2 linked regions of the Homo sapiens genome follow. The protein of the gene in region 1 purifies or fractionates together with the protein of each later gene. This does not show direct contact. Each region holds a gene or a part of one and is shown in the gene's direction. Other genes may lie near its edges.

Region 1 (3,735 bases):
TCCAGCCTCCACCCTCTGATTGCCCTAAGGAGGTTTTGGGGTTTTGTTTTGTTTTGTTTGTGTTTTCGTAGGATGGTGGCAGTGATTTTGAGGAGGGGAAGAGGAAGGAAGATACAAGCAAGGGAAGTCACAGGCTGTGGTGCCTAGGCAGACCCTGGTTTGAATCTTGGCCTTACCACTTTTTGCATGTAAGTGGTAGGGGCAGCAGATAGCTCAGGACATATCTTGGGTTTTTTTGTTTGTTTTTGTTTTGAGACATAGTCTCACTCTGTTGCCCAGGCTAGAGTGCAATGGCACAATCTTGACTCACTGCAACCTCCACCCTCCCGGGTTCAAGTGATTCTCCTGCCTCAGCCTCCCGAGTAGCTGGGATTACAGGCACCGGCCACCACACCCAGCTAATTTTTGTATTTTTAATAAAGATGGAGTTTCACCGTGTTTGCCAGGCTGGTCTCGAACTCCCGACCTCAGGTGATCCACCTGACTCGGCCTCCCAAAGTGCTGGGATTGGCCAGGTGTGGTGGCTCATGCCTGTAATCCTACACTTTGGGAGGCCAAGGCAGGTGGATCATTTGAGGTCAGTAGTTCAAGACCAGCCTGGCCTATGTGGTGAAACCGCATCTCTACTACAAGTACAAAAATTAGCCGGACATGGTGGCACACGCCTGTAGGCCCAGCTACTCAGGAGGCTGAGAATCACTTGACCCTGGGAGGCGGAGGTTGCAGTGAGCCGAGATGGCACCACTGCACTCCAGCCTGGGTAACAGAGCAAGACTCTGTCTTAAAAAAAAAAAAAAAAAAAAAAGTGCTGGGATTACAGGCTTGAGTCATCCCGCCCTTCAGGACATATCTTTTGAATTTTGAACCTGGTGAATGAATTTTTAGATGACCTCAGGACAGTCCTCAATTTCCACATGACCTCAGTTTTTCCAGCTTTGCAAGGGGAGTATGAAACCAGCCCTGAAGTCTTGCTAAGAGGATTCGGGGAGCTCATAGAAGTTGTGAGTTGGTTCCTCCATTCGCCTGGGTGTTGTAAGGGGCAGGGCCTGTGTCTTGCTTGTGGCCTGCCAGGGTAGCAGCTCAGTAAGTGAGATGGTATCTCACTGTGGTTAGGATTCACATTTCCCTGATGACTAGTAATGTTTCCGTGTAATTTCTTGAATGATCATTCAGTAACAATAAGTGTAGGTTGAGTTTGTAGAATCAGGTTGACCTCCTCAGCCTCGATTTCCAAATGGAGAAAGCAGAGATTTGGAGCTCCTGGTCAGAGGAGCAGGTCGGTGCTGGAGCCAGGACTCAACCTTAGGTTGTACCTCTGAGCCTTTGAACACTTGCCGTTTCTATTCCTCACAGCAGCCCTTTCAGACGGAACGGGTGTTACCAGATTAGGAGGAGAGTGGCCACTGTATTCTCAGTGCCCAGCCCAGGGAGGCAGATCTGAGTGGAGTTGCTAATGAAACATGGAAGGTGCTTGAGAGCTAACTGGAAGGGAGGGAAGGTGTGCATTCCTGCACCAGGGCCTTTGCATGTACTTGTTACTTTCTCCTGCTGGCCAGCTGGAGTGTCTGGAAAGATCTGCCTTACTCAGGGAAGCCTTCTCACTCGCACTCTGCCCAGTTAGGACCACTGCCCTCTAGAGACCCTATAGAATTACAGAGGAGGCCGGGCGTGATAGCTCACACCTGGAATCCCAGCACTCCAGCCTGGGCGACAGAGTGAGACTCCATCTCAAAAAAAAAAAAGAAAAAAGAATAAACCCCACACACCTTTGCCTTCCCTTTGCTTTCCCTCACCACACCCCCATTCTCCCCGCCTCCCAGCCCCTGGCAACCACTAATCTGCCTCCTGTCTGCGTGGATTTGCCTGTCCTGGACATTTCCTATAAATGGATCATACAATCTGTGGTCCTTTTGTTTGGCCTCTTTCTGTTGGAATAATCTTTTCCAGGGACATCCATGTTGTAGCATGTGTCAGAATTTCCTTTCTTTTTATAGCTGAATAATATCCCATTGTATGGACTGACCATGTTTAGTTGGCCCATCCATCCGCAGATGGACGTTTGGATTGTTTCCACCTTTGGGCTATTGTGAATAATGCTGCTGTGAACGTTTGTTTACAGGTTTTCAATGCAGGCAAATGTTTTCGTTTTTCCTGGGCATAAATTCCAGGAGTGGAATCGCTGGGTCATATGGTAACTCTCTTTAACCGTTTGAGGAACCGTCAGACTGTTCTCCATGGTGGCTGTGCCATTTGACATTCCCACAAGCAGTGGAAATGGGTTCTGGATTTCTCATCCTCACCAACTTTTTTGATTCCAGCCATCCTAGTGGGTGTGAGATGGTGTCTCATTGTGGTTAGGATTTGCATTTCCCTGATGATGTTTTCTTCTAATTTCCCTGATGACTAGAGATGTTTTCATGTAAGTTATTTATTTATTTATTTATTTTTGAGACAGTGTCTCTGTCTGTATCCCAGGCTGGAGTATAGTGGCGCAATCACAGCTCACTGCAGCCTTGACCTGGGCTCAACAACAGATCCACCCCCCACCACACCCTCCCTAGTAGCTGGGACCACAGGTGTGCTCCACCATGCCGGGGTAATTTTTGTATTTTTCGTAAGAGGCAGGGTTTCACCATGCTGCCCAGGCTGGTCTCAATCTCCTAGGCTCAAGTGATCCACACGCCTTGCCCTCCCAAAGTGCTGGGATTACAGGCATGAGCCACTGCACCCAGCCTCATGCAATTTCTTTTTCCTTTTTTTTTTTTGAGACAGTCTTACTCTATGCCCCAGGCTGAAGTGCAGTGCCACAATCTCGGCTCACTGCAACCTCTGTCTCCTGGGTTCAAGTAATTATCTGGCTTCAGCCTCCCTAGTAGCTGGGACTACATACCCACACCACCTTACCTGGCTAATTTTTGTATTTTTGGTAGACAGGGTTTTGCCACGTTGGCCAAGCTGGTCTCGAACTCCTGGCCTCAAGTGATCCGCCTGCCTCAGCCTCCCAAAGTGCTGAGATTACATGAGTGAGCCACTGCGCCTGACCTCATGTAATTTCTTGAGTGGTCATTTAGTCATTATACAAACAGTGATTGAAGGGCATGTGCCCAGCACTGCAGACTCTGCTGCACAGTCAGATGACCCTGCCTTTCTGGCATTTCCATGCCAGTACCCTGAAGAGATACCATATATGTACCTGGTGCTTGCAATAGCTGGCACTCAGAGGTAGCACACTGTGTCCTAGCCACTCTTCCGAGCACTTAAGCATATTCAGTTACTCTTCAAGTACATATGAATAAGTATGCCTTTGCCCCCTCCTCTTTGCAAGGGATAGCGTGTGGCCACCCTGGTCTGCAGCTAGCTTAGCAGATTTGACCACATATTGTAAAAGTGAGTCTGTACCAGGACAGATAGGGTAGAGGGCTCTGTGTGGTTTAGCACCATGGTAGATTCCATCGTGCGGATGTCCCTCCAGCAGGGGAGGTCTTTGGGGCCAGGGCTAGGCCAGCACCCACATTTGCCGCCTGACCCCGTCCCTCCGTCTCTGTCTCTCCATTCCTCCCTGCCCCTCGTGCAGCCGCTGCCATGGCCCAGACACTGCAGATGGAGATCCCGAACTTCGGCAACAGCATCCTGGAGTGCCTCAATGAACAGCGGCTGCAGGGCCTGTACTGTGACGTGTCAGTGGTGGTCAAGGGCCATGCCTTCAAGGCCCACCGGGCCGTGCTTGCTGCCAGC
Region 2 (3,735 bases), on another chromosome or scaffold:
TTACATGTACTTATGTGTGGCTTACCCATGATTATAATTTGCCTACCACTGGAAATAATAACCAATAATGTCGAAAATTATTTGAGTACCCTCTGAGTCACACTGTAGCAAGTGCTCATTTAACTGACACAGCACTCTAGCAAAATAAATATTTTATGCCCATAAGAAAACAGACGTTCTGAGAGAGAAAGTAATTTGTCTAAGGCTACATAGCTTGTTAGTGAAAAATCTGATTTTTAAACTTGAGTCTAATTTCAAGTTCTCATTCCACTCTACTGCATTTCTCGGACTAGGACTTAAAGAGTTTAGGTTCTAGGCATTCCACAAACAGATACTGAGAACCTGCTGTTACCGGAAAGGGGTCCCAATCCAGACCCCAAGAGATGGTTCTTGGATCTCGTGCAAGAAAGAATTTCAGTGGAATCCACAGAGTAAAGTAAAAGCAAGTTTATTAAGAAAGTAAAGGAATAAAGAATGGCTACTCCATAGGCAGAGCAGCCCCAAGGGCTGCTGGTTGCCCATTTTTATGGTTATTTCTTGATTATATCCTAAACAGGAAGTGGATTATTCATGCTTCCCCATTTCAGACCATATAGGGTAACTTCCTGACGTTGCCATGGCATCTGTAAACTCTTGGGGTGCTGGTGGGAGTGTAGCAGTGAGGACAATCAGAGGTTACTGTCATTGCCATCTTAGTTTTAGTGGGGTTTGGCCAGCTCCTTTTTTTAAGAACATCACAGGTAAAGCTCACAGGAAGGTGACAGTCTAGGAGAAGATGTTCGCAGTGTCTAAATTTGACAGGGACTTATTTTATTTTCATTATTATTGTTACTATTATTATTATTTGAGGTGGAGTTTCGCTCTTATTGCCCAGGCTGGAGTGCAATGGTGGGGTCTTGGCTCACTGCAACATCTACCTCCCGGGTTCAAGCCATTCTCCTGCCTCAGCCCGCTGAGTAGCTGGGATTACAGGCATGCACCACCACGCCCGGCTAATTTTGTATTTTTAGTAGAGAGGGGGTTTCTCCATGTTGGTCAGGCTGATCTCGAACTCCCAACCTCAGGTGATCTGCCCGCCTCAGCCTCCCAAAGCGCTGGGATTACAGGCATGAGCCACCGCACCCAGCTGGTCAGCTTCTTTACTATAACCTACCTGTTTTATTAGCAGGGTTTTTGTGTCCTGCATTTTGTGCTGACTTCCTATTTCATTCTGTGATTAAGACTGCCTTAACTTACTGGGAATGTAGCCCAGTAGGTCTTAGCCTTATTTTACCAAACCCCTACTGAAGATGGAGTTGCTCTGGTTCAAACGCCTCTGACACTATGATACAGAGAAAAGGTAGAAAATAGGAAATTCTGCTCTTAAGAAATTCATATAGTTTGAAAAAACTAATTTCAGTGGAGTGTAAAGTTATAATACGAGCACTTGTTTCTGCAGTTATACCCTTCTTTGTTGATCCTTTGCCTCCCAGCCATCCGCTGTGCCATTTTCTCTGCCTCTTCACAACAAAACTTATCCAGAGTATTGTCTCAGTGTCTTTGCTTTCTTACATCCTATTCCCTCCTTGGCATACTCCAATCTGTCTTCTGTCTTCTTTACTCTGCTAAAATCGCCAGGGTCTCCAGTGATTGATGTTACCATATCCAGTGGTTGTCCTTTTGGCTTCCTTGTATTTTGAAGCACTTGCCACACTGTGAGCCCTCCTCACTTTTTTTTTTTTTTTTTTTTGAGATGGAGTTTCACTCTCGTTGCCCAGGCTAGAGTACAGTGGTGTGATCTCGGCTCACTGCAACCTCTACTTCCCAGGTTCAAGCCATTCTCCTGCTTCAGCCTCCCGAGTAGCTGGGATTACAGGCATGTGCCACCATGCCTGGCTAATTTTGTATTTTTAGTAGAGACAGGGTTTCTCCATGTTGGTCAGGCTGGTCTCGAACTCCCGACCTCAGGTGATCCACTTGCCTCGGCCTCCCAAAGTGCTGGGATTACAGGTGTGAGCCACTGCGCCTGGCATAGTCCTCCCCACTTCTTAAAACACTTGTTTTTTAACTTCCTAAATACCACACTCTTTTTTTGTGGGGGGCGGGGGGGCAGCGGGTAGAGACAGGGTTTAGCCATGTTGGCCAGGCTGGTCCCGAACTCCTGGCCTCAAGTGATCTGTCTGCCTGCCTCGGCCTCCCAAAGTGCTGGGATTACAAGCATGAGCCACCATGCCCAGCACTAAATACTGTACTCTTCTAGTTTTCCTTCTTTCTCCTGTGCTCTTTCTCACACTAAAATATTACAGTGCCAGGCTTTGTTCAGTCTCCCTGGGTAATACCCATTCCCAGGGCTTTAGATGCCATCTGTGTGCTTATAACACCCTAATTTATATATCTAGCCTAGCACTTTTCTCCCTGAAATTAAGATTGCTCTTTGACCTCTCCATTAAATTTATTTCCAATAAATATCTCAGGCTTTCCTGTTGCATGTAGTGGTACAACCATTTATTCACTTGTTCAAGTCAAAAATCAAGAATTATTCTTAATTCCTCTTTTTTCTTTATTTCTTATGTCCAATTAGAAGCCAGACTCATTGACTTTTAACTTCAAAATACATTTCAAATCAAGTCACTGGGAAAATAAAGTCAAATAACAAGTGATCTCTGCTTCCAAAGATTGTTCATAGTAGACTGGCAAACTAATTAGCAATTATGTGAAGTGTAGTAGGTATTAAAATAGAAATCATAGGAGCGTTGGGGAAGACATCTGAAACAAGCAGAACAGAGGCAGTAGGTGTGAGAAGAGTAAGAGAAGTCTCTTGCGTAAGTGATGTTTGAGCTGGTATTTTTTAGAATTTCTGTAATCGTATAAGCAGGCAGTGTCCACTTTAGACTAAGAGAACTATATTTTTTAATGCAAATGCTATTATGATGCAGAATGATTTAGCCGGGGTTCTTCAAGTAGCTTAGTGTGGCTGCAATAATGTTTTTTGAGGATTAGGTCAGATAAGGGAGCAGGATCCAAATCATGAAGTTTCCTAAGCAAAAGAGTTTGAAGCTTATGAACTGGATATTTTTGAAATAGGACTTAACACACCAGCTTTGCTACTAATTATATGACTTCGGGCAAAAGATGTTTAATGTAAGTAAAAAGCTATTGAGACCTTTTTTAAAAATTTACTGGGAATAAACATCTTAATTTATGTCTCCTGTTAAAGTGTTACTTGTTTGCTTTGAATTTAATAAAGTTAAGCTCCCTCTGCTTGAGAGTGGTCCAAAATATGCTAGGATTATTTCATATGAGCATTGAAAAAGGAATCAGTTAACTTTTTATATTCTGAAATTTTACTGCCTAATGAGATTACAGAAGACACTATGTGTGCATGAGTACGTGTGCACGAGCGTGCATGTGGAGAAGGTGCAGGAGGAGAGAAAGAGAAATCACCAATGCAACAGCAGCCTACTCCACCAGTGGGTTAGTGCTGCTGGAGGGAGATGAAAAGATTAGGAAGGTAAGATAGCTTTGAAGGCTTTGTATTCTAAATTAAGGAGTTAGATTTTTAACTGTCACGTGAGGTAGGCATTATCATCATTATTTTACAAACACAGAATCAGACTCAGAGAAGTAATCTGGACAAGGTTACACACTTAGTACCAGAGAAGCTGAGATTCAAACTCAGGTTTATTTGACTTCATAATCTTTGCTCTTATCCCTCCCCCTTGCCGCTCACTAGGTCCTCTCTGTTTAATCTCAACA

The links.
Region 2: the proteins of NACC1 (region 1) and XPNPEP3 purify together in Homo sapiens (affinity purification with mass spectrometry, with the first as the bait; one large-scale study listed by BioGRID). This does not show direct contact.

The regions. Positions count from the first base shown.
Region 1 is NC_000019.10:13,131,626-13,135,360, forward strand, and holds part of NACC1 (nucleus accumbens-associated protein 1), read left to right. Parts: intron 1-3,574; 5' UTR 3,575-3,582; coding exon 3,583-3,735. UniProt on the Homo sapiens protein: Functions as a transcriptional repressor. Seems to function as a transcriptional corepressor in neuronal cells through recruitment of HDAC3 and HDAC4. Contributes to tumor progression, and tumor cell proliferation and survival.
Region 2 is NC_000022.11:40,863,617-40,867,351, forward strand, and holds part of XPNPEP3 (xaa-Pro aminopeptidase 3), read left to right. Parts: intron 1-3,735. UniProt on the Homo sapiens protein: Catalyzes the removal of a penultimate prolyl residue from the N-termini of peptides, such as Leu-Pro-Ala. Also shows low activity towards peptides with Ala or Ser at the P1 position.